2 separate regions of the Homo sapiens genome follow, and region 2 is linked to region 1. The links come from fine-mapping of genetic effects on gene expression. A gene starts in region 1. The other region holds a variant in brackets. All regions are shown on one strand. Distances are from middle to middle.

The links. PIP is the estimated chance that this variant, and not a neighbour inherited with it, causes the effect.
Region 2: its variant is the best candidate, but not a certain one, in a credible set for the expression of SPMIP8 in tibial nerve (GTEx, PIP 0.85).

The regions. Positions count from the first base shown.
Region 1 is chr16:57,971,743-57,983,864 of GRCh38, forward strand. SPMIP8 (sperm microtubule inner protein 8) reads left to right here and starts at 4,802. Exons shown (of 8, transcript NM_199456.3): 1 at 4,802-4,892; 2 at 6,073-6,297. The coding sequence starts at 6,075.
Region 2 is chr16:58,006,071-58,020,078 of GRCh38, forward strand. USB1 (U6 snRNA biogenesis phosphodiesterase 1) reads left to right here. Exons shown (of 7, transcript NM_024598.4): 3 at 3,859-4,042; 4 at 8,203-8,256; 5 at 11,264-11,369; 6 at 12,902-12,985. Among named protein-coding and RNA genes, the nearest start is that of USB1, 12 kb to the left of the region's middle. RefSeq lists enhancers at 6,141-6,673, 6,674-7,205. The variant G/A (reference allele first, on the strand shown) is at 3,532.

The DNA of each region.
Region 1 (12,122 bases):
CAGTGTGGTGGCCCTGAGGGATATTTGGCAAAGGGCAGGACTTGACTTAATTATCCGCACCATTTCTAGAGTTCTTCCTTTCCTTTCCTTTCCTTTTTTTTTTTTTTTTTTTAAGCCACAGTCTCTCTCTGTCACTCAGGCTAAGTGAAGTGGTGCAATCACAGCTCATTGCAGCCTCAACCTCTCAAACTCCTGGATGCAAGCAATCCTCCTGCCTCAGCCTCTCATAGTATTGGGATTACAGATGTAAGCCCCTGCACCTGGCCTAGAGCTCTTCCTTTGTGCCTGGCAGTGTGCCAGCCTTGGCACACTGAGCAAGACAGACATAGGCCCTGTCCTCATGGAGCTTACATTCCAATGGAGGAGATTACTGACAAATAAAGAATATTGCAAATTATGCTAAGTGCCATAAAAGAAACAAACAGGGCAGAAGCATGTTGTGGAGGGCAGTAGGGGCAGGTAGGCAGGCCCCTATGACGAGGTGGATGTATATTTGAACTGAGACATGAAAAGTAAGAAAGACTCAGCTGTGAAAAAAGCTGGGTGAGTGGTGCTCCAGGCCAAGGACACTGCAACGAGAAAGGTTCTGAGGCTGGAATGAGCCTTGAGGAGCAGAATGGGAACCGGGGAGCCTGGAGCTTAACGGGTGCAGGGGAGAGTGGTGGGAGATGAGGTTGACAGAGGGCAGGGGCAGATGTTGTGAGACTGTAAGCCACAGGAAGGAGTGTAGTTTTAGATGATGGTTTTGAACAGGGGCTGGGCATGATCTGTGTGGCTCTGTGTAGCAGGCAAGCATGGAAACAGGAAACTGGTCAGGAGGCTGCGGAGGGACAAGCTGATTGGTGACTGGATGACCCCTGGCTTCCCCTCCAGTGTTGGGCTTCAAGACCTCTGATAATGCAACCTCTACATGGCAAGTGATTCACAAGAAAGTTCTTTCTGCCAGCAAGGCCAGACCCCAACGGTAAAGCTCAATGTACTCCCTGACCCTTCCCTACAAATATGCCAGGCTGCAGGGGTCAGAGCTCCTCCCCAAGGAACAGCAGCAAGCCCTTCTGCTCTGCTTGGGCCTGAGACTAACACAGGTGACATTCGCCCTTGCCTGCAGCCTGACGGGAGGGATGATGGGGCTTGGACTATGCTGGTGGGAGTACAGATAGAAGGGAAAGGGGAGGAAAAAGGCGGGCATTGAGGGGCTCACCCTGGGAAACTGGGTAGCTGGTTTAGTGGGTGAACCAGTAAACCGCCCCAGGCTGGTTTACACATGTACTGAAAAGAAGAAGCCTGAGGCTGGAAGTTTGGAGGAAGAATTTTGGAGGGAAAATCATGAGCACTACTTTGTTAAGATGTCTGAGAGAGGCTGGGTGCAGTGGCTCACGCCTGTAATCCTAGCACTTTGGGAGGCCAAAGCAGGTGGATCACCTGAGGTCAGGAGTTCAAGACCAGCCTGGCCAACATGGCAAAACTCCGTCTCTACTAAAAATACAAAAATTAGTCGGGTGTGGTGGCAGGTGCCTATAATCCCAGCTGCTCTGGAGGCTGAGGCAGGAGAATTGCCTGAACCCGGTGGGTGGATGTTGCAGTGAGCCAAGATCACACCACTGCACTCCAGCCTAAGCAAAAAAAAAAAAAAGTCTGAGAGACATCCAGGTTGAAATGTGTGTGTGTGTGTGTGTGTGTGTGTGTGTGTGTGTGAGACTTAGGGAGAGGTCTACAGGAGATAGAAATTTTGGAGGCCTCAGCTTGCAGATGATGCTTAAAGCCACAGGACTGACTGATATCACCTCGGAAACCCAAGGAAACAAAGATGACCAGAGGTGGCACCTGGAACACGGGCTCACTCAGAGGATGCAAAAAGAGCAGGAGCTGGTAAAGGAGCCTGAAGGAGCTGCCAGGGATGGGGATGGAGAAGCAGAAGCATGGGGTGAGGTGAAAGCCAAGAGTAGTGGCTGTGTTGGGGTGAGGGAATGATCCAAGGGGCCACTGTCTGAGCTGAGACTTGAAATGCGTCCTGAGATTGGGCAACTTAGAGGCAGTTGGAGCCCCTGCAGAGTGGGAAGGAGGGAAAATTAGATGAGCCTGAGGGAACAGTAGTGGGCTCTAGGGTGGGGAAAATGAGCAAAACACAGCCACACACAGTGGCTAAAGTTTGGATGAAACTCATGTGCATATATATGGAGAGAAAGAAGCCAGATTCAAAAGAAGACCCCAGTGATCCATGCATACAAAATTCCCAAAAGGCAAAATTAGTCTGTCCTGTCTATGGCTACAAACACAAGTACATTTGCCACCTCTAGTTTTCTATAAAGCCTAGAGTTGTTAAATAAAGTTTTCCATAGTTGCCCATAAATAAAAGCACAGGTTGTACTACAAGATGGGAGAGTGGTTCCTTCTTGCTGGGTTGGGGGTTGTAATTGGGAAGGTGTATGTGGAAGCTTCTAGGGACTGGCAGGGCCAATGTCTTGCTTTCTTTTACTAACTTGGCTGGCATCTATTTTTCAAAACAAGCTTATGGGAATATATATGCCATAAAATTCACCCATGGTAAGTATACAACTCAATGACTTTTATATTACTTATTATTTATTTATTTATTTAAGACAGGGTGTCACTCTATCACCCAGGCTGGAGTGCAGTGGCGTGATCATAGCTCACCGCAGCCTCGACCTTCTGAGCTGAAGTGATTATCCCACCTCAGCCTCCCAAGTAGCTGTGACCACAGGCACATGCCACCATGCCCATTTAATTTTCATATTTTTTGTAGAGACAGGGTTTCGCCATGTTTCCCAGGCTGGTCTCGAACTCCCGGGCTCAAGCAATCCACCCACTCGGGGTTCCCAAAGGGCTGGAATTACAGGCGTGAGCCACCGCCCCGGCCTAACTCATGATTTTTAACACATTGACTGAACTGTGCAACTCTTGCCACATCTGGTTTTAGAACATTCCCGTTGCCCCAGTAAGACCCCTCACACCAGATGATAACCACTCTTCATTCGTACACCCCAGTCCCAGGCAACCACACATCTGCTTTCTGCGTCTATAGATTTGTCTTTCCTGGACATTTTATATAAATGGGTCATACAATATGTGAGTTTTCACATCTGGCTTCTTTGATGTAGCGTAATGTTTTATGAGGTTCATCCACCTCGTAGCTTGTATCAGAACTTCATTTCTTTTCATTGCCCAAGAGTATTGCATGGTATAGACGCACCACAGTTTATCCACTCATCAGTGGACACAGGTTGTTTCCACTTTTTGGCGATACATCATGTTGCTATGAACATTTGTGTGCAAGTCTTTGTGAAGATATATACTTTTTTTTTTTTGAGACGAAGTCTTGCTCTTGCCGCCCAGACTGGAGTGCGATGCTGCGATCTCGGCTCACTGCAACCTCCGCCTCCCAGGTTCAAGCGATTCTCCTGCCTCAGCGTCCTGAGTAGCTGGGATTACAGGCTTGCACCACCACGCCCAGCTAATTTTTGTGTTTTCAGTAGAGACAGGTTTTCACCATGTTGGCCAGGCTGGTCTCAAACTCCCAACCTCAAGTGATCTGCTCACCTCAGCCTCCCAAAGTGCTGGGATTACAGGTGTGAGCCATCGTGCCTCACAATATACTTTCATTTCTCTTGGGAAGCCTCCTGGGGTAGAATCTTCCAGATGACCCAATCATATGGTACATTTCTGTTTCATTTTTTAAGAAACTGATAAACTGTTTTAAAAGTAGTACTCCATGTCTTGACCAGGGTGGGTGGTAGTTATACGGGGTCTCATTTTGTAAATTATTAGTTACATTAGATATTTATTCACTTTCTGTATTTCTTCTATTTTATAACTTTAAAAGAGTCAAGAAATAAATTGGGGGTGGGGTGGTGAGTGGAGTCAACTCTGGGAAGGTTTTTTGTAAGGGGTAGCAGTTAGGAATGCTGTTCTGGAAGCTGTATGGAGCACTGGAGGAGGAGCAACTGGGGAAACAAATCCTACAAGAATTTCACAGGAGGGGCTCCAAGACCCATCAGGTTCAGCCCCTGGGCAGGTATATGCAAAAGCACATGCCAATATATGCAAATAAGTTAGGATCTCCTGGGGTTTCCTCACCTTGGGGGTCTGTCTCTAATGGTTGTGACCAGGATGGTGGGCAGGCCCCAGGGCTTTGGGGTGCTGGCCTTGGGCACTCACAGCCTGGCTTTTCTGGGAGCCTGCAGTCCTGCAGGGGCTGAGGGTGGAGTATCATCTGCTAATCCCTGGCCTGCTGAGTCCACCACTCTCCCTGATCCCCTCACGCTTACCCTGGATACTGGCCACAGCTAATCTCCACTCCTGGAGACTCAAGGGCTGGCAGACAGTGCAGTGCCCTCTTCCCTGAGGGTTCCAGGGAGGGGAGATCCCTCTCAGCATCCAGATCCTCCTAACGGCAGATCCTAGAGTCCTTGCCTAACACAGAGGAGAGCCTTGAGTCCCAGAGAGAGGCGGTAATTAGCCCAGGATTACACAGCCTGCAGTGGGCTCAGTAGCCATTTCTGGCCTGCCTTGGCCTGACTACCTCCAGGGAACCCCAGCTCCCCATCTGACATTTCCCAAGATGCCTGGCCTGTGCTAAGGCCTGGGAGACCACAGCCTTCAGGAAGGCTGGAAGGGAGTGGCCAGAGCACAGGAATTCTGGCACAGGCTCTTGTTAGAGCCTGTAGTTGCCAGGGTTGCTAAGGAGTGGGTGCCTCAGAATCAGGCTGCAATGGGCATTGTCTGTGCACAATGTTCCTTTATTCTGCTGCTGTCCATAATAAGGGCTCGTCCACCTCCCTTCCTCTTCTGCCCATTGAGCAGTCAAAGAACTGAAAGTCCTTATAAGCCTGTGCACCTGGGCCTGGGCCCTACAGATAAGGTAGCTGCTATTGGTGAGTCAGAAGCAGGGAGCCCTTGCTCTCTTCCCCATATCCGTGATCCCCCTCCCTGTCCCTCCCCAGGCAGTCACATCCCCTAAGGCAGCTTCCCCATGCCTTGTCACCATGCCCCCTCCCTGCTCCTCCATGATCTAAGGTCCTCTCTCCTCCTGCCACCCTAGCTTCCACCTCCACCTCTCACCTCTAACTCAGGGTCAGGAAGAAAGCAAGCTGTCTCAACAAATTCTCACTAAAGTGTAAATGACTGAAAGGCTCCTGGGACTATCTGCTTTTTAAAGGGAGGCACTGGGTATCCAGTAATGCTTTTCTAGTTTAAATATATCATGTTGCTCCCCTTCCTGAAAATCTTTCTGAGTCAATCTGTAGAATTTTGGGTAAATAGCTAGGGCAAGTCCATAATTATTCACCCAGAGGTATACGGCATACTAAGCTACATTCTGAACCCGCTTGCTGCTGCACTTTCCTGCTTATTATTTAAGAATAGACTCGCCAGGCAAGGTGGCTCACACCTGTAATCCCAGCACTTTGAGAGGCTGAGGCGGGTGGATCACTTGAGGTCAGGAGTTCGAGACCAGCCTGGCCAACACAGTGAAACCCCGTCTCTACTAAAAATACAAAAACTAGTCACATGTGGTGGTGGATGCCTATAATCCCAGTTCCTCAGGAGGCTGAGGCAGGAGAATCACTTGAACCCAGGAGACAGAGGTTGCATTGAGCCAAGATGGCGCCACTGTACTTCAGTCTGAGCAGAAGAGTGAGACTGTCTCAAAAAAAAAAAAAAAAAGAAAAGAAAGAAAGAAAAAAAAACGAATAGACTCAAATACCACCTCTTTTAGACCATTCCTTGAATGTCCTAACCCCAGCCTCCCCAGAAACACACACTCTGTACTGACCTCCCTCACAGCCATGGCACAATGTGAGTGTGTGTGTGTGTGTGTGTGTGTGTATGTGTGTGTTGGAAGGGGAGTGGGAGGGTTGTCTCTGTTATCTTCTGTTATCTGAATGTTCCTGCCACCTCATGCTGAGCTCCAGAAAAATGGCCTGGCACACAGTAGGTGCTAAATAAATGTTTGGCAAGTAGACATCGGCACTGGCCAAGGTTGTTTTCATGCAGAGAAGGGTGTCTGGCCAGCATGAGCCCAGGGTGAGCCCCTTAGAACCCTCTGCCCCCCAGCTATGGCCCGCATCATTGACCTGGTGCCCTGGGACGATGGCTCCACACATGTGTATGCCTCCCCGGCCATCCTGCTTCCCATGGAGCGGCAGCGCAACCAGCTGGCGGGCGTGAAGCAGCAGCTCTACCACCCAGCCCTGCCCACCCTGCGCCACATGGACAGGGACACCGTCAAGGCCTGCCTTCCTGATGAGCACTGCCAGTCCACCACCTACTGCCGCAAAGGTTAGGACACCAGTGTAGGATCCCCTTTGGGGAAGGGGCAGATGGTTTCAGGAAAGAGGGAGACAGATGCAAGGATGAAAGAGGCCAGTCCCAGCTCTGCTGCTCCCTGCCCAGGACACTTTGGCCAGGTCTGAGCCTCTGTTTACTGCTCAGTACAATGAGGATAATTGACAAGGCCTACCTCAAAGTGTTGTTGTGGGGTTAGAAGGAGATAAGGCACAAAAAACACTTAGAGGCTGGGCGCAGTCCCAGCACTTTGGGAGGCCAAGGCAGGCTGATAACCTGAGGTCAGGAGTTTGAGACCAGCCTGGTCAACATGGTGAAACCCCATCTCTACTAAAAATACAAAACTTAACCAGGCGTGGTGGCAGGCACCTGTAATCCCAGCTACTTGGGAGGCTGAGGCATGAGAATTGCTTAAACCTGGGAGGCGGAGGTTGCAGTGAGCCGAGATCACATCACTGCACTCCAGCCTGGGCAACAAGAGTGAGTCTCCGTCTCAAAAAAAAAAGCACTTAGAGTAGTGCCTGGCACATAATATGTGCTCAAAAAGTATTGCTGATGCCATTGTTGTTATTGTTGTTTTGTTTTTTGAAGACAGTGTCTTACTCTGTCGCCCAGGCTGGAGTGCAGTAGCATGATCACAGCTCACTGCAACCTCGACCTCCCAGGCTCAAATGATCCTCCCATCTCAGCCTCCCGAATAGCTGGGACCACAGATACGTGCCACCCTGCCCTGCTGATTTTAAAAAATTATTTGTAGAGACAGGGTCTCCCTATGTTGCCTAGCCTGGTCTCAACTCCTGGGTTCAAACGATCCTCCTGCCTTGGCCTCCCAAAGTGCTGAGATTACAGGCATGAGCCACTGTGCCTAGCCTGTTGTAATTAATGGAGAGAGAACTGGGCAGAGGTTGACAGGTGCAGTGGTAGGAGTCATAACAGTAGTAACTTCTGCCCAAGCATCTCTGTATGTGGAAAAGAGAGAGAAAGACCTCTCCTCACAGCCCCCATGCAGGAGAGGAAGACGTGTGGGCCTTCAGGGCAAAAGAGCCCCACGGGCCTAGTGAATAACCCCGCATGGACTGAGGAGCTTGCGTGTGGAGGGATTTAGAAGGTATTTAGCAGATAAAGTCAACAGGAGTAGGTGCAGGCGGGGCAGGGTAGGAGGCCAAACAGGGGGAGTGCAGGCCCATACCTAGGCTCCAGCTTGGGTGACAGGTGGGCTGAGGGTGTCAGAGACCGCACGGAGATTACCAGAGTTGCCACATGGGCCCTAATGGGAAACACAAGTGAGGGAAGTGGGTGGGGAGGCCGTGGGGAAGGAACACTCCACAGGGAAAAGGGGCACCCACACCTGCCCTATTTAAACGGCAGCCACGGGGTTCCCCACAGACTGTGCTATGTTGGAGGGGCCAGCCAGGTCACCAGTTCTTCCAATTTCCCGCTTCTGAGAGAAGCCAGGAATCTAGATTTTTAAGGAAAGCTCTGATGTAGATATGTATTTTATTGTAAGCATATGCTTTAAGTAAAAGTAATAGTCAGAACTTCAAAGCTCAAAATGCTATAACAATATGCACAGCAACAAGGCTCACTCCCACTGCCCCCGCATACAGGTAACCACCCCCCCACCACATTCTTAGTTTCTGATGTCTCTCCCTGGTTTACTAATGGGAATATAAACACATGTTATTTTGCTCCCCAACTTTTTATTACTGTTAACTGAAAACCCAGAAATTTGTAAATTTAGGCAGGGTACGGTGGCTCACACCCACAATCTCAGCACTTTGGGAGGCCAAGGCAGGCAGATCACGTGAGGTCAGAAGTTCGAGACCAGCCTGGCCAACATGGTGAAACCCCATCTTCACTAAAAATACAAAAATTAGCCGGGCGGGGTGGCGGGTGCCTGTAATCCCAGCTCCCAGGCTGAGGCAGGAGAATCACCTGAACCCGGGAGGCGGAGGTTGCGATGAGCCGAGATGGAGCCACTGCACTCCAGCCTGGGTGACAGAGCGAGACTCCATCTTCAAAAAATAAAAATAAATGTATAAGTTTAGAAAAGGAGACTTTATTTCTTACAAGGGGTTATAGCTGCCAGGTGGCCATCCCACAGGCTGGAAAGTGTGCCTCCAGCTTAAGCCCAAAGATAGGCATGTCAAAGGAGGAGGGGTTGGGTAAGAGCTTTATGTTCAAAGGGTTGGCTAAACATACATATTCAATAGTTTATAGGAGGAGCTATGAATATTCATGAAGATAGTACTGACATGGGCATATTGAACAAACATGCATGTAACATACAACCCATGTTCGCTTTGAGGTGGAGACTTAACCTTTAAATGTATTACAATTAGTCCCTATACGTCAAAAGTTCTTTTCAGGACGCGAAGCCCAGCAAGTGAGCAGCCTCTGTATGCTGGGCAGGACCAGTCCATGGTTGGTGGTCTTCTTACCTGGAGAAAGTTACTGAAATCAGCCTCTTATGCAATCAAAGGCATAGCTGTGGCTGGTGGATCAGGGGGTCAGTTCATCAGCATCTGTGAGCTGTATGAGTTGTAATTGTTTTAATATTGCTTATCTCAAGTCCAGGGCTAGAGAAAAAGAAAAACCTCATGGCAATTAAAACATAGCTTATTTATTTTTGTGTTTTGCTTTTCGTTTTGTTTTGTTTTGTTTTTTTAGACAGAGTTTCTCTCCATCACCCAGGCTAGAGTGCAATGTCAAAAACATGGCTCTTTACAGCCTCGACCTCCCAGGTTCAGGTGATCCTGCCACTTCAGCCTCCTGAGTAGCTGGGACTACAGGCACACACCACTATGCCAGGCTATTTTTGTTGCTGTTGTTGTTGTTTGTTTGTTTTGTGTGGAGACAGGGTTACACTATGTTGCCAGGGCTGGTCTCCAACTTCTGGGCTCAAGTGATCCTCCAGCTTCAGCCTCCCGAAGTGTTGGAATTACAGGCGTGAGCTACCACGACCAGCCTGTAGTTTATTCTTTAAGTGTAGGGGTGCGTGACTTAACCCTTGCCTGGCATGGCCTTAGGTCCTGTTAATAATCTGGTATCTTGGCCGGGCGTGGCGGTTCACGCCTGTAATTCTAGCACTTTGGGGGGCCAAGGCAAGTGGATCGCCTGAGGTCAGGAGTTCAAAACCAGCCTGACCAATATGGTAAAACCCTGTCTCTACTAAAAATACAAAAATTAGCCAGGTGTGGTAGTGTGTGCTTGTAATCCCAGCTACTGGGAGACTGAGACAGGAGAATTGCTTGAACCCAGGAGGCGGAGGTTGCAGTGAGCCGAGATCGCGCCATTGCACTCCAGCCTGGGCAACAGAGTGACACTCCGTCTCAATAATAATAATAATTATTATTATTATAATAATAATTATTATTATTATTATTATAATTTGGTATCTTATTGCCACAAAGAGTCTGTTCTCTTAGTCTTGTAATCTCTCTCTCTCTCTTTCTCTTTTTTTTTTTTTTTTTTTTTTTTTTTTGAGACAGAGTCTCACTCTGTCACCCAGGCTGGAGTGCAGTGGCGCTATCTCGGCTCACTGCAACTTCCGCCTCCCCGGTTCAAGTGATTCTCCTGCCTCAGCCTCCTGAGTAGCTAGCTGGGACTACAGGCGTGTGCCACTACGCCCAGCTGATTTTTGTATTTTTAGTAGACATGGGGTTTCACCATGTTGGCCAGGCTGGTCTCAAAATCCTGACCTCAAGTGATTGGCCTCCAAAACCACTGGGATTACAGGCGTAGCCACCGCACCTGGCCTTGTGATTGCTAGTTTAACATTAATGCTGGTCATTTATTGTGTCTAAACCGCAAAAAGGCAGGGGTGGAATGAAGCATGTCTGACCTCCTGTCCCATTATGGCTGGGAACTCAGTTTTTCAAGGTTTTGGGGGATCCCCTTAGCCAAGAGGGGGGTCCGCTCAGTCAATACATTGCGGAGACCTCAGGATTTTATTTTTAGTTTACATGATAAACATTTTCAAATGGAGAAAAGTTGAAAGAATACTACTATGAGTACCCACCACCTTCCTCCTGCTTCAGTTGATTTTTGCCATATTTTTGCTTCTCTCGCCCTCTCTCTTACATTCTTGGACACCCTTTAGCAAGCAGCTCCCAATGACAAAAACATCCTTCTACATGACACAATACCATTATCACACCTAGGAAAGCTAACAATACTTCTACAACATCTAATATCCAGACCATATTAAAATCTCCCCAATTGCCCTCAAAGATGTCTTTTCTGGCTTTAAAATGATTTTTTGGAACAAGAATTCAATCTAGGATTACGTATTTCAGTTACTTGTTATGTCTTTTGTCTTAGTCTAAAACAGTCCACCCAGTTTCCATTGCCCACCATCATACTGACTTTTTAAAGTCTCTAACAGTTGTGTTGTAGACAGTCCCATATGGTGAATTTGAGCCACTGTTTCTTCATGGTGTTTCTTATCTTGTTAATCTATTTTCTGTAAACCAGCAGCTAGGTGTAGAGATCTGAATCACCAGGTTAAACACTGCTGGCCAGAATCTTTCACAGGCGACAGATGCCGTGTTTGCCATAATGCTGCAGCAGGAGGCACAGAATTTCATTATCACATTATTTGTGATGCTAAGTTTGATTATTTGGTTAAGGTGATGACCTGAATATATATTCTCTGTTTCCAACAGTCTATGTTTAGTCTACCATTTTAAAGCAAACAGTAGGCCGGGCGCAGTGGCTCACGCCTGTAATCCCAGCACTTTGGGAGGCTGAGGTGGACAGATCACTTGAGGTCAGGAGTTCAAGACCAGCCTGGCCAACATGGTGAAACCCCATCTCTACTAAAAATACAAAAATTAGCCAGGCATGGTAGCACGCACCTGTAATCCCAGCTACTCGGGAGGCTGAGGCGTGAGAATCGCTTGAACCTGGGTGGCGGAGGTTGCAGTGAGCCGAGACCGCGCCACTGTACTCCAGCCTGGGCGACAGAGCGAGACTCTGTCTCAAAAAAAAATTTTTTTTAAAGCAAATGGTAGCATATTGTATATACCCATCTGCACCTTGGAGTTCTTGTATAGAGAAATTCCTCAACTTGTTAATTTATTTATTAAAAACAAGGTCTCGCTATGCCACCCAGGCTGGAGGGCAGTGGCATGATCACAGCTCACTTGCAGCCTTAAACTCCTGGGCTCAAGCAATCCTCCTGCCTCAGCTTCCTGAGTAGCTGAGACTACAGGCTCGAGCCACCATACCTGGCATTTTTTGTTTTGCTTGATTTCTAGGCACTCTTTCAATATTAAGGAATATTAATTAATATTAATATCTGTAAAATAAGTGGAAATATTTTTTCCATTTGTTTTTTGACATTTGTTTTTGCCATGTAGAAGTTTATTTTTATGTATTTAACTTATCAATCTTTTCTTTAAAGCTTCTGGATTTTTAATTAAAATTATTAAGGCCTTTCCCATCCCAAGATTATAAAAGAATTTGCCCATGTTCACTTTTTACATTGGAATCTTTGGAGTTTTATTCTGTTGCAAAGGTAAGATGTGAATACTATTTTATCTTAGATTTTTTTTAAGTTGTCAAATTAAAAAAAAATTTTTTAAGAGAGTCTCGCTCTGTTGCCCATGCTGGAGTGCAGTGGCGCAATCTCAGCTCACTGCAACCTCCACCTCCTGGATTCCAGTGATCCTCGTGCCTTAGCCTCCCTAGTAGCTGGGACTACAGTCGCGTGCCACCACACTCAACTAATTTTTCGTATTTTTGGTAGAGATAGGGTTTCACCTTGTTGCCCAGGCTGGTCTCGAACTCCTGAGCTCAAGTGATCCACCCGCTTT
Region 2 (14,008 bases), 35 kb after region 1:
CGCTGGGTGTGGTGGCTCACACCTGTAATCCCAGCACTTTGGGAGGTCAAGGTGGACAGATTACCTGAGGTTGGGAGTTCAAGACCAGCCTGACCAACATGGAGAAACCCCATTTCTACTAAAAATACAAAATTAGCCAGCCGTGGTGGGACATGCCTGTAGTCCCAGCTACTTGGGAGGCTGAGGTAGGAGAATCACTTGAACCCAGGAGGCAATGGTTGCAGTGAGCCAAGATTGCACCATTGCACTCCGTCCTGGTCAACAAGAGCAAAACCTCGTTTCAAAAAAAAAAAAAAACAAAAAAAAAAAACGGACACAGTGGCTCACACCTGTAATCCCAGCACTTTGGGAGGCCAAGGCGGGCAGATCACAAGGTCAGGAGTTCAAGACCAGCCTGGCCAACATGGCGAAACCCCCATCTCTACTAAAAATACAAAAATTAGCTGGGCATGGTGGCACATGCCTGTAATCCCAGCTACTTAGAAGGCTGAGGCAGGAGAATTGCTTGAACCCGGGAGGTGGAGGTTGCAGTGAGCGGAGAGTGCACCACTGCACTCCAGCCTGGGCAACAGAGCAAGACTCTGTCTTGGGGAAAAAAAAAAGAAAAACAGGCTTATTTCTTCTTTGCTAATCTGTATACCTTTTATTTCCTTTTCTTGCCTTATTGCATTAGCTAGGACTTCCAGTATGAGTTGAAAAGCAATAGTGAGAGGAGGCATCATTACCTTGTTCCTGATCTTAATGGGAAAGCTTTGGAGTTTCCTATCAGTTAGCTATAGGTATTTTTAGACATTCTCTATCAAGTTAACAAAGTTCCCCTCTATTCCTAGTTTTCTGAGAGTTTTTATCTTGAATGGGTATTGGATTTTGTCAAATACTTTTTCTGTATTTATTGATAGGATCATTTGATTTTTCTCCTTTAGCCTATTGATTGGATGGATTACATTAATTGATTTTTGAATGTTGAGCCTGCTTTGAATACCTGGGATAAATCCCATTTAGTTGTGGAGCATTATTCTCTTTATATGTTGTTGTATTCAATTTGCTAATATTTTCTTGAAAATCTTGCATCTCTGTCCATGAGAGATATGGGTCTGTAGTTTTCTTGTAATGTCTTTTTCTGGTATTGGTATGAGGATAATGCTGGCCTCATGGAATAAGTCAGGAAGTATTCTCTCTGCTTTTGTCTTCTGAAAGATTATAGATAATTGGTTTAATTTTTTCCTTAAATGTTTGGTGGGATTCTCTAGTGAACCGAACCCATCTGGGCCTGGTGCCTTCTGTTTTGGAAGGTAATTTTTGTTTGTTTGTTTGTTTGTTTGTTTTTCGGAGACAGAGTCTCACTCTGTTGCCCAGGATGGAGCACACTGGCATGATCTCGGCTCACTGCAACCTCTGCCTCCCAGGTTCAAGCTATTCTCCTGCCTCAGCCTCATGAGTAGCTGGGATTACAGGCACCTACCACCACGCCTGGCTAATTTTTGTATTTTTAGTAAAGACACAGTTTCGCCATGTTGGCCAGGCTGTTCTCAAACTCCTGACCTCCGGTGAACCACCCACCTTGGCCTCCCAAAGTGCTGGGATGACAGGTGTGAGCCACAGAGCCCAGCCGGAAGGTAATTATTTATTTATTCAGGCTGGGTGCAGTGGCTTACGCCTATCATCCAGCACTTTGGGAGGCCAACACGGGCAGATTGCCTGAGTTTGAGACCAGCCTGGGCAACATGGTGAAACCCTGTCTTTACTAAAAAAATACAAAAAAATTAGCCATGCTTGGTGGCGGGTGCCTGTAATCCCAGCTACTCGGGAGACTGAGGCAGGAGAATCGCTTGAACCTGGGAGGCGGAGATTGCAGTGAACCAAGATTGCACCACCGTACTCCATCCTGGGCAAAAGAGTGAGACTCTGTCTCAAAAAAAAAATAATAATAATTCAATTTGTTTAATAGATTTAGGCCTATTTAGATTATTTCTTCTTTTGTGAGTTTTAGCAGATCGGGTCTTTCAAGGAATTGTTCCAGTTCATCTAGGTTATCAAATTTGTGGACATAAAGTTATTCATGGTATTCTTTGATTATCCTTTTATTATCCATGGGATCTGTAATGATGTCCCATCTTTCATTCCTGATTTTAGTAATTTGTGTGCCCTCTCTATTTTTCTTAGTTAGCCTGGCTAGAAACTTGTTGATTTACTGATCTTTTCAAACAACCAGCTTTTGGTTTTATTGATTTTCTTTATTGATTTCTTGTCTTCAATTTTATTGATTTCTGCTCTAATTTTAATTATTTCTTTACTTCTGCTTACTTTGGATTAAATTTGCTGTTGTTTTTCTACTTTCCTAAGATGAAACTCAGATGATTGACTTTAGATCTTTTTCTTTTTCTTTTTTTTTTTTTTTTTTGTGAGGGAGCCTCGATCCGTCACCCAGGCTGGAGTACAGTGGCGCAATCTCAGCTCACTGCAACTTCCGCCTCCCAGGTTCAAGTGGTTCTCCTGTCTCAGCCTCCCAAGTAGCTAGGACTATAGGCACGCACCACCGTGCCCAGTTATTTTTGTATTTTTAGTAGAGACGGGGTGTCACCATATTGGTCAGGCTGGTCTCGAACTCCTGACCTCCAGTGATCCACCTGCCTCTGCCTCCCAAAGTGCTGGAATTACAGGCGTGAGCCACCATACCCGGCCTAGATCTTCTTTTCTAATATATGCATTTGATGCTATAAATATTCTTCTAAGCACCTTTTGCTGCATTCCACAAGTTTTGATAAGTTATGTTTTCATTTTTATTTTGTTCAAAATATTTATAAAGTTTTCTGGAGATTTCTTCTTTGATCCGTGTGTTATTTAGAAGTGTGTTTTTTAATCTCCAAGTATTTGGGGATTTTCCAGCTACATTTCTGTTACAGACTTTTAGTCTAATTTCATTGTGGCCTGAGATCAGACATTGTATGGTTTCTAGTCTTTTATATTTAAGGGGTTCTGATGCTTACTATTTTTCTTCAGATTGTATTTTTGCCCTTTAGTATGTCTTGTAATTTTTCCTCGATAGCTGGACATGAAGTACTATGTAAAAGGAACTGTGGTAAACAGGCCTGTATGAATGTGGTGGTGAGGTGGTGGGGGACAAGAATCCTTCTGTAGTCCTGTGATTGGGTGTCAATCTTTTGGTGAGCCGGTTCCTCTGGACTGGGAACTTCCCACACGCTTCTCAGAATTTTCCCCTTCCTAGGTGGGACAGGATGACCAGAAGGTGCTGCAGTTTGGTATTTCACTTCCCCTAGGTCAGTTAAGAGTCTGATAAAACACTTTCAGGTTAGGCTGTAATTCAGTAAGTTTCTCCTGAGGGTAGACCTTGTTAAGAAAAACTGGAGGCTGGGCGCAGTGGCTCACGCCTGTAATCCCAGCACTTTGGGAGGCCGAGGCGGGCGGATCACGAGGTCAGGAGATCGAGACCATCCTGGCTAACACGGTGAAACCCCGTCTCTACTAAAAATACAAAAAAAAAATATTATCCAGGCGTGGTGGCGGGCGCCC[G/A]TAGTCCCAGCTACTCGGGAGGCTGAGGCAGGAGAATGGCATGAACCCGGGAAACGGAGCTTGCAGTGAGCCGAGATTGCACCACTGCACTCCAGCCTGGGCGGCAGAGCAAGACTCCTTCTCAAAAAAAAAAAAATAATAATAAATAAATAAATAAATAAATGAAAATAAAATTATATTAGAAGACATAGACATAGGCTGCTGTCCAAGTAATTTTCTCCCCAAACCCAGAGTAATAAGGACTTCCCTCTGCCTTCTGGGCTTCTTCATTCAGCCATGGCACCTTGGCTGAGAGAACGGCCCGCCCTCTTTACTCCTCCCCTCCAGATGAAGCCAAGGAGGAGTTCCTGGATCTGCTTGATGTGTTGCTGCCCCATGCCCAGACATATGTCCCCCGGCTGGTAAGGATGAAGGTGTTCCACCTCAGCCTGTCCCAGAGTGTGGTTCTGCGCCACCACTGGATCCTCCCCTTCGTGCAGGCTCTGAAAGCCCGTATGACCTCCTTCCACAGGTGAGTGCTTCTTCCCTCTGCCTCTCCACTCCCTCCCCTCCATGGCTTCTCCTCCTCTCCTGAGCTACTGCGGGCATTACCCCAGCAGGCAGGCAGACCTAAAGATAGAACACGGCCCCTCTCCTGGGGCTGCCTGCTCTACTTCTCATCCTCCGTGACCTTGGGCATGCCGTGGAAGCTCTTGACACCCCTGATGCCGTATCTGCTCTGTAGGAAAAGCCAGCTGTTTTTCTGTAAGCTCTTGCTCAGTACTTCCAGCACTTCTGTGACCAGATGTGTTGAGTTTTTTTCCACACCAACAAATTATCCAACTCTCCAGACACCCACTGGGTGTCCTATAATCGAACTCAATTCTGACACTAATAACCCAGGGTTAGTGCAGACTTCATAGGTTAAGGACTCAGTCCCACAAGACTGCGCTCCTTGTCAGACACCATCTGCAGTGTTGAGCTCTCAGGTTACCCACAACATCTGTCTGATTTCACTACAAATCAGAGGTTCTGTGGACCCTCTCCTCAGGTTTGATCATTTGCTAGAATGGCTCACAGAATTCAGGCAAACAGTCCACTTACTAGGGCGCCAGTTTATTACAAAGGATATGTTACAGGATACACATGAACAGCCAGATGAAGAGATAGGTAGGGTGAGGTCTGGAAGGGTCCCGAGCATGGGAGCTTCTGACCCTGTGGAGTTGGGAGTGAGCCACCCTCCCAGCACATGGGTGCGTTCTTAATCACCAAGGGAAGCTCCTCAAACCCTGTAGTTCCAAATTTTTACGGAGGCTTCATCACATAGGCATGATGGATTATTAACTCAGTCTCTAGCTTCCCTCCCATACCGGGAGGGTAGGGGGTGGGGCTGAAAGTTCCCAGCTTCTAATCATGCCTTGCTCTTTCTGTGATCAGCCCCCATCCAGGACCTCATTGCCTCATTGGAACCAAAGATGCCCCTGTCACCCAGGAAATTCCAAAGGATTTAGGAGCTCTGCGTCAGGAGCCAGGATCACAGACCAGATAATAGAACAAAAGATGCTCCTAGCACCCCTGCTGCTTAGGAAATGACACAGGTTTTAGGATCTCTGTGTCAGGAACTGGAGGCTGAGACCAACACATATGTTATCATTTCACAGTGATAGGTCAAACAGGTCATGGTAATGGTGGGAGCTACCTCACTGGGGGCCTATGGGGGTGAAAGGAGATCATGGGTGCCCTCAGCACACCACTTGGGTGAAGGGTTAGTACCAGACCCCACTTCTGGTTTTGTCTGCCAGCCTGGGGCTTTTTTTTTCCCCTTACCTATTAGATTATTTCATAACTCTTTTCCTACCAGAAATGCATCTCCTGCTAGACTGGTCCAGATCAAAACCCTGCTCTTTCACTGAGGCTCTCCCGGTTGGCATATCCTGCAGAATCCCTCCGTCCAGAGATCAGTCGGTCCTGTGGTTGTTTCACAGGTGACTCCTCTGTCCAGAGATCAGTCGGTCCTGTGGTTGTTTCACAGGTGACACCTCCGTCCAGAGATCAGTTGGCCCTGTGGTTGTTTCACAGGTGACCCCTCCATCCAGAGATCAGTTGGTCCTGTGGTTCTTTACCCCTGGTGGTCATTTCACTCACCCTCATATGCAGTCGTTCCTGTGTCCATCTTCCTTCCTGGAGCCCACATTCCTCCAGGCCAGGACTGTGGCTTCTCTCTGAATTGCCCCACAGCTTTTTTCCAAGTGCTCTGCTCACAGTAGACATCAAATAGATGCTTGTTGAGTCATGGTGCGGGAATGAGGGAGCCTAGAGAATATCTTTCTGGATCCTCTACTGTTGATACTAGAAGGAGCCTAAGAAGCCACCCGGCTGATGGTTTTCTGACCCTGCCTTTATCAGCAGAGCCTTTTTTCAAATGAGGTGTTGCACAAAAGCCTGATGTGTGGCTGTGTAAAACAGAAATAAACAGTCTTCTAGCCAAAGCCCCATTCCCACAGTTCAGGGGGCCATAGGCCCAGGAATTCCATAGGATGTCACTGCCCAACTAGGAAACTGCTCAGTTAGCTGAACCCCTTCTGAGGGCCAGAGGAGGACAGGATTTGTCCCAATCCAGACACTCGGCCAGGGAATAAGGGCTGAAACTCATCTCTCAACCTAGTCCAGCCCTCCCCCTCTTTGGATTGTCATTATCAAGTTGATTGATTGTATATTATCAGGACTCTCTTAACCACAGGTGCCAGAAGCCCATGCCAGAAGCCCAACCCAAAGTGGCTTAAACCAAAGAGAAATTTATAGGCTGGTATAACTAAAAGATTCAGAGGTAGCACTGGCTCATGCATGAGTGGACCGGGGTGACAAGATATCAGATGGCACCTGACTGTCACCACCACAGGCAGACTGTTCACCATCTCAGCTCTGTCCCCTTCCTTTGTCACAATGACGAAGCCACCGCATCTCCCGGCTAATGGTGTACCAGCCTGGAAAGACAGCCTCCCTCTCTGATTGGCTTCAGCACAAGTCACAGGAATGACTGCCTGGTCTGACCCGTCTCCTGTGTGCTTTCTTTGGGAGTAAAGAGTTAACAGGCCCTTCCCCCTTCCACAGAGAGTGCTTCCCTTATCCTGCGGAAGCTCTGCCCCTGGATGAAGGAGGAGAGCGGCTATGTTAGTGCTGATGACTGGCACACTGCACTTGCGCTAGGAAGACAGCATGAACTGCACCCCTCCAGGGAAGCCACGGCCTGGGCTCCCCTGCATACAGTGGTTCCTTAACTGGGCACGAGTCCCTTGCTGGGACTTAGGAAAACTCTGCCTAAAGTCCATTGCAAGAAATACTGATCCCTGTGGGATGTATATGTGGCTGGTTCCCTTGCTCACTGAGAGACTAGAAAACAGCACCTGGACCCCTGGGCTGGTTCCCTCTGAGGAAAGGATCTGTGTCATGAGTGAAGCCCGGGCAGGTGTGGTCTGTTCAACTTTGATCATCTGGTTGAGCCTAAGGTGACCAAGAGTGGGCGGTGCACCCCTGATTCTGTTGCTGTGACTGAGGAAATGCTAAGCTCTGTTTGGCCAGGCCTGGGCAGCCTGCCTCTGGAGTAGGGGTGGAGAGCCATCCTGCAACACGAGGTTACCAGGAGAAGGAGTTTTGGTTGGGCACAGACATCCAGTGTCCACTCCAGGATGTTTGGGAGACACCTTGAGAACTCTTCCTAAAAGCTGCACTTAACCAAGCTCCTGGTGGTTCTGTGATCCCTTACATTTTCTCCAGAGGCAGAGAGTTGGCTGACTGACTTTTGCCCTTGGGCAGATTGTGAGGCTCTACCCAGCATGCTGGTATATTATGTTCCCTCAGATGGGGGTGAGACCCTTGGCCTGGGGGCTGTAAAATGATCTGTTTCTGTGAGGAGACTTTCCATGGTGAGATTGCTAGTGTCTCAGAGAATAAAGGACAGAACCAGTCCAAGTCAAAGCACTTACCTAGCTGAGCCTGACTCTTCCCGTGTTATTGATCTGAGGGGTGGGTGGGTGGGGGCATCTGTCTCGATTTCACACCAACAGACCTATTCCCCTCACGAAAGCGTCATAGGTGACAACAAGGACTCTGGAAACAGGCAGACTGACTGTTCCAATCCTGGCTCACCAAATTCAGCTTCACCATGCCTCTGTTTCTTTGTCTGTAAAATGGGCATAATTGTAGGCCTGCTCACAGAGTTGTGTGAGGATTCGAGAAACAGAGTGTGCAAAGGCTTGAGCTCAGCCCTGACACACGAAGAAATGTTGTCGTGATTGCTTAGATGAAATCGGAGTCATCTATTTTAAAAAACTGCAAGAAATGAATCAGCTGTTAAGTGGTCCATTATCACCTACTTGATCAATAAGGCTTTCTCAGTTCCCATCAGTGAAGTTGAGATAGTCTCAAATTGTTTATCGAAATGAACTGCTATTAACAAAGTAAAATTTTTACTAGCACCTGGATGATGTTGTGTGTTACTCGGGCTGGGTGATTTTAAGGTCTTGTCCAGCTCTAATGTTTAAGGTTCAGTATACCACCTGCATAATGGGGTGATAATATGAAGTGCAAAATGAGTTAACTATATTTTCAAAGTGCTGTTTTTTTTTAACATAAGCTATTTTTTCTGCTTTTTTTCTTACGATTTTTCCTGAAATATGGTCTTCTAAATTTCAGATTCTTCTTTACTGCCAACCAGGTAAAGATTTACACCAATCAAGAGAAAACCAGGTGGGTCCTCCCAACCCCCAATCACCATCAGAGGAAGATTCTTTGGTGCAAAAATTGAGTGCTTTGTTTCTGGACTTGTTTGTCCCATTTTTTGTTTGCTTTTAACCAACTCTATGACTATAAAGGCAGCTATCCCCAAATCTGAACCTTTCTTTAAGAAAAATAACTGGGAGATCCCAGGCACAGTAGCGCATGCCTGTAATTCCAGCACTTTGGGAGGCTGAAGCAGGTGGATAGCTTGAGCTCAGGAGTTCCAGACCAGCCTGGGCAACATGGCCAAACCGTGTCTCTATGAAAAATACAAAAATTAGCTGAGCATGGTAGTGTGTGCCTGTAGTTCCAGCTACTTGGGAGGCTGAGATGGGAGGATCGCTTGAGCCCTGGAGGTCGAGGCTGCAGTGAGCCAAGATTGCACCACTGCACTCCAGCCTGGGCAACAGAGTGAGACCCTGTCTCAAAAAAATAAAAGGCCAGGTGCGGTGGCTCACGCTTGTAATCCCAGCACTTTGAGAGGCCAAGGTGGGCAGATCACCTGAGGTCAGGAGTTCGAGACCAGCCTGCCTGACATGGCGAAACCCCATCTCCACTAAAAATACAAAAAATTAGCTGGGTGTGGTGGCAGGCGCCTGTAATCCCAGCTACTCGAGAGGCTGAGGCAGGAGAATCGCTTGAACCCTAGAGGAGGAGGTTGCAGTGAGCCAAGATCACACCACTGCACTCTATCCTGGGTGACAAGAGTGAAACTCTGTCTCAAAAATAAATAAATAAATAAATAAATAAATAAATAAATAAATAATGACTGGAGGAGCATGTAGTGGGGTGGTGCCCAGAGATTGAGAGAAGCATCTTGGTTTAGTGAAAACCTGTGAAAGTCAGGAAACCTGTTTCTGCCCAGCTCCATCCCAGTTGTGGTGTTTAGTCCGTGTCTTCATCTCTGTGACCTTTCATTTTCACACTGGCACACGCCTCCCAACATCCACTGTTGGGCAGTTGTAAGGCTCAAATGAGCCCCAAGGCCTTTGAAAAGTTAAAAGTATTAAAGTGTTAGATGAACATAAGAAGAAATGATTATCCTGCCTTCAAAGCGAGCCTCCCTGTCTGATGCACTCACTGGGCCACCTTCTCTGAGCACTTCTGAAAGGGGCCTCATTTATTCATTCATTTATTCCATGCTGCACAAGTTTGTTAAGCACCCACTTGTGCCAGGCATTTGCTGTACACTAAGGATTCATCAGTGAAGAGGTAGACACAGCCCCTGCTCTTTTCAATCTCATATTCAGAGGGGAGACAGATAATAAACAAGTAATGAGAGTGTTTGTTAATAACTGTGGTGTGATATGGTCAGGAGTGGGTAGTCCAGGAGGGTACCAGGGAAGTGGCCAGGGAGATGGCATTTGATGGTGACCTGAGAATGAGAAGCCAGCCTTGGGAAGAGCTGTTGCAAGAGCTTCAAGCAGAGGACATAGCAAACTAAGTGACTCCGAGGCAGGGAAGATTTCAGCATGTTTGAGGAGGCCAGTGAGGCAGACCCCAGAAAGCACGAGGGAGAATGATAGGAGATGAGATGGGTAGGGTTAGCCCATCCAGGGGCTGCAAGCTCAAGTAAGGAGTTTGAATTTTCAGTATAATGGAAGCCATTGGAGGGATTTGAACAGAGGAGAGGCATGACCTGATCTATATCTGGGGATGTCAGTCTGGCTAGTGGTGTGTCTGTGGCCATGGAGTCTGGGGGCAAGATAGAAGGGAGCAAGAGTGGATGCAGGGAAACCAGAGAGGAGCCAGGTGTCATTGTCCAGGTGAGGGACCATTGGTGGCCTAGATTAGGGTGATGGCCATGGAAGACCAAGAGGTGGACACATTGGAGATACACTAGAGGCAGAAGCAACCAAATTACCAATGGGTTGGATTTATGTGAAGCAAGGGGAAGACGAACATTGATTCCTGGGTTTGAGGCTAGAACAACTGGCCCCGTTTTCTGTGATAAGAGACACTGGTGGGATGAAAAGCAAAAGTGCTGCTTTGTACCTGTTTGTTTGTACCTGCTAGGTTTTGCTATCTATTGGACCCCTAGGTGGAAATGTCACATATACAACTGGGTGTTCAGGAGAGGGACCAGCTGGAGATAGAAATGTGGGCAGTGTTGGCCTGTGTGGGAAGCGGGGCTGGGTGAGATCAGCCTCCTGGAGAGTGCAGATGGAGAAGATCCAGTGATCTTCACCACGGGGAGGCTGGAGAGGAGAGAGGGTGGCAGAGGACACTGAACCGGGAGACAGGAGGCAGGATTAAACCAAGACTGCGTGGCAGGTGATGTCTTGGGAGCCAAGAGAGAAAAGGGTTTCAAGGAGGGAAGAGTCCACTGTGTGAGATACTGCTGGGTGCGTACGAGGCGGACAGCGAAGTGTCCCTTGGATTTGGTAACGTGGAGGTTGTTGGCAACTTTGACAAGAGGACTCCCAGCAAAGTGGGTTGAAGATGGGAGGTGAGAAAGAGATAGTGATGGTGGACAAATGGTCTTTTTGAGAAGTTTCACTGAGAATGGGATGGGGACGTGCTGAAACCGTGGGTTCAGGGGAGAGTTTTTAAAGATGAGAGAGCATGCCTGAGTGCTTGTGGGAGGCGTGGCAGATGCCTGGGAGCAAAGTCCTCGAGAAGAGGCCTCCTTGAGGACAGGAGTCATTTGCGATTGGAATGATGATGGAGAATGGGGGTGCAGAAGCTTCTGGGTTTGTGACTTGGCAGTGGTGGGTGAAGGCGTTCCTGGAAGGGTTATTAGATCCAGAGAAGGGAGGAGAGCTGTGTGGGTGAGAACTGGGAAAGGAAGATTTACAGACAGAGAATCTGAGGACTGAGAGAGTTGGCTCATGGAGCAGGAAAGCGAGTGTACCAGGGAGACGGTGAGACCCACGGCCCAGGCCTCTTGGCCTTCTGCCTGGCTCCTGCTCGGCTGCGCAGATGGCTGTGTTCTCAGAGGCTACATCTCATGCCTGCGTTGTCTTCCTCTCCCCAGGACCTTTATTGGGCTTGAGGTCACTTCAGGGCATGCCCAGTTCCTGGACCTGGTTTCAGAGGTGGACAGAGTCATGGAGGAATTCAACCTCACCACTTTCTACCAGGTAATGAATGGGGCTGCTGCTTCTCCATTGACCCATTTCTAATGAGAATAAAACTGTCTTTAAAGAAGCCCTCGTAAGAGGCAAACCGAAGACCCTTCAGAACCTCCCGTGTCGGTGCTCTGAATGCCAGCCTTCTGAGGATGCACACCTCGGGGGGTGAGGGCTTTGAGGTGTAGTCAGATGCAGCCCACCCAAAGTCCAACATTTCTTAGAAATTTTGCTTTATATCCTAAATACGCCCGAGATTTGTACCTTCTGCTCCATAATGTTCCCGTGTTGTTTTCACATTTTTTAAGTAGATGTCCCTAATAATTTTTGGTCAGATTGACCCTCAGAGAGGAGTTGTAGCTTCACACACCTTCCTGCACCTTGCCCAGGCCCTCCAAGGGCACTTGGACTCTAAGTCGACTCTCAGGGCTTTGAAGGGCCATTCATTTTATTTGATATATGTTTTTAAACCGTGCTGAGGGAGATAAGTATGAATTTGAATGGAGACAATTATTGTTGCTTCAAAACTTGAGACTTTGGGGATTTTGTTCATGTCATCTGAAAAGTATGGTGTATACTGGAATGTCCTAGATCAGAATAGAGGGTGGATTTTCTTTCATGTCACAGATGTAATGACCCTCTGATACTTCAGGGAAAGCCTCTGTGAATACGACTGTCTTAGCTCAGGCTGTCATAACAAAATACCATAGACTGGGTGGCCTAAATAACAGAAATTTATTTTTGCACAGTTCTGGAGGCTAGAAGTCCAAGATCAAGGTGACAGCATGGTTGATGTCTTTTTTTTTTTTTTTTTTTGGAGACAGAGTCTTACTCTGTCGCCCATGCTGGAGTGCAGTGGCGCAATCTCAGCTCCCTGCAACCTCCGCCTCCCAGGTTCAAGCAATTCTGCCTCAGTCTCCCAAGTGGCTGGGACTACATGTGTACAACACCACGCCCAGCTAATTTTTGTATTTTTAGTAGAGACGGGGTTTCACCATGTTGGCCAGGCTGGTCTCAAACTCCTGACCTCAGGTGATCTGCCTGCCTTGGCCTCTCAAAGTGCTAGGATTACAGGTGTGAGCCACTGCACCCGGCCAAGCGTGGTCGGTTTCTGGTGAGGGTTCTTCCTGGCATATAGATGGCCGCCTTCACATGGCGGGGCAGGGGTTGGGGGCTACAGAGAGAGAGAGCAGTGCCCAAGCTCTCTGTGATTAAAGGGCACTAATCATGAGGGTCCTGCCCTCATGACCTCATCTAACCCTAATTACCCCTCAAAGGCCCCATCTTTACATACTATCACATTGGGGGTTAGGGCTACATGAATTTGGGGGAGGTGACACGATTCAGTCCATAGCAAGGACCAGTCCTGTGCTGTTTTGTCTGTCTGTGGAGGGTGCTTGGGATCAACACTGAGTATCTTGTCTCCCACTGGGCAGGCCAGGGATCCAGCAGGGATGTCACGACAGCTCTGTCACAGACCTGCTGTGAGGGCAGGGCCTGCCAAGGCGTCCGGGTGACTGCCTGCCTCTCGTTTCCCTCCCCAGGATCCTTCTTTCCACCTCAGCCTGGCCTGGTGTGTGGGTGATGCACGTCTCCAGCTGGAGGGGCAGTGCCTGCAGGAACTACAGGTGAATTTCCAGGGCGGGAGCACAGAGGGCGCTGAACTCCAGAAATGACAGGACAGATGCTGGAGAGGGGGAGGATGAGGCACCCAAACCTGAATCCCTGGGAAACAAATGACATGGCAGGAGACCCCAACACCTTCCCTTGTGACTCAAGGTGTGGCCCCTGGACCAGCAGCTTCAGTGTCACCTGAAGCTTATTAACAACACAGATCTTTGCCCCCACCCCCACCAAGACCTAAGAAATCAGAATTACATTTTAACAAGATCTCTGGGGATTTGTGTGCACATTACAGTTCTAGGGAGCACTGCCCTAGAACACTGATCTGCGAGGAGGCTGCAGGCTTTCCCTGAAGTCCTAGCCACTTGCCCAGAGGTCAGAGGCTTGGGCCTGGCACTGAAAATGGGTGAAATGTACCAGGGGTAAGGAACATCCAGCCCCCAGAGTCTATCAGATTTTGATAAGTAGCTGAAAGATTCCACTTTCCCATCTGCGCCCTTGGAGGAGAACCAGCAAGTTACATGAAGTGGTAAGCGGCGGCTGATACTCCAGCCCTGGTTGGGGAGACAGTAGGGAGTGTGGCCATGCGGGAAGATTGGCCTAGAGTTGCCAGCACTTCTGTTTCATAAGAGAAGCCAGAAACCTAGATTTTTACATGTAATCTGTCAGTTTTCAAATGTCAGCAACTAATTTGGATGTTTAAAAAACATTTTGCAACCAAACCAAACGTGCAGGCTGGATGCAGCTGTGGTCCCTCGTTAAGGAGCCACCTTGCGCTTGGCCTGATGTTGCTGGAGGTGGCAAAGAGCTCTAGTTTGGGCTCCGGCAGACCTGGGTCCCAGGCCTGGTTTTATTGGTTTCTGTGATCCAGGGCTCTGAGCATCTGTGTCCTCATCTGTAAAGTTGAGATGATAGGACCAACCTCAGAGATTACAGAAGTGATCAGACAAGATCACCAATGCAGAGCCTGGAGCCTGCAGCCTCAGCCTCGCCCAGCCTCTGAAGTTGGGTGAGCTGGTTTTGTTTGC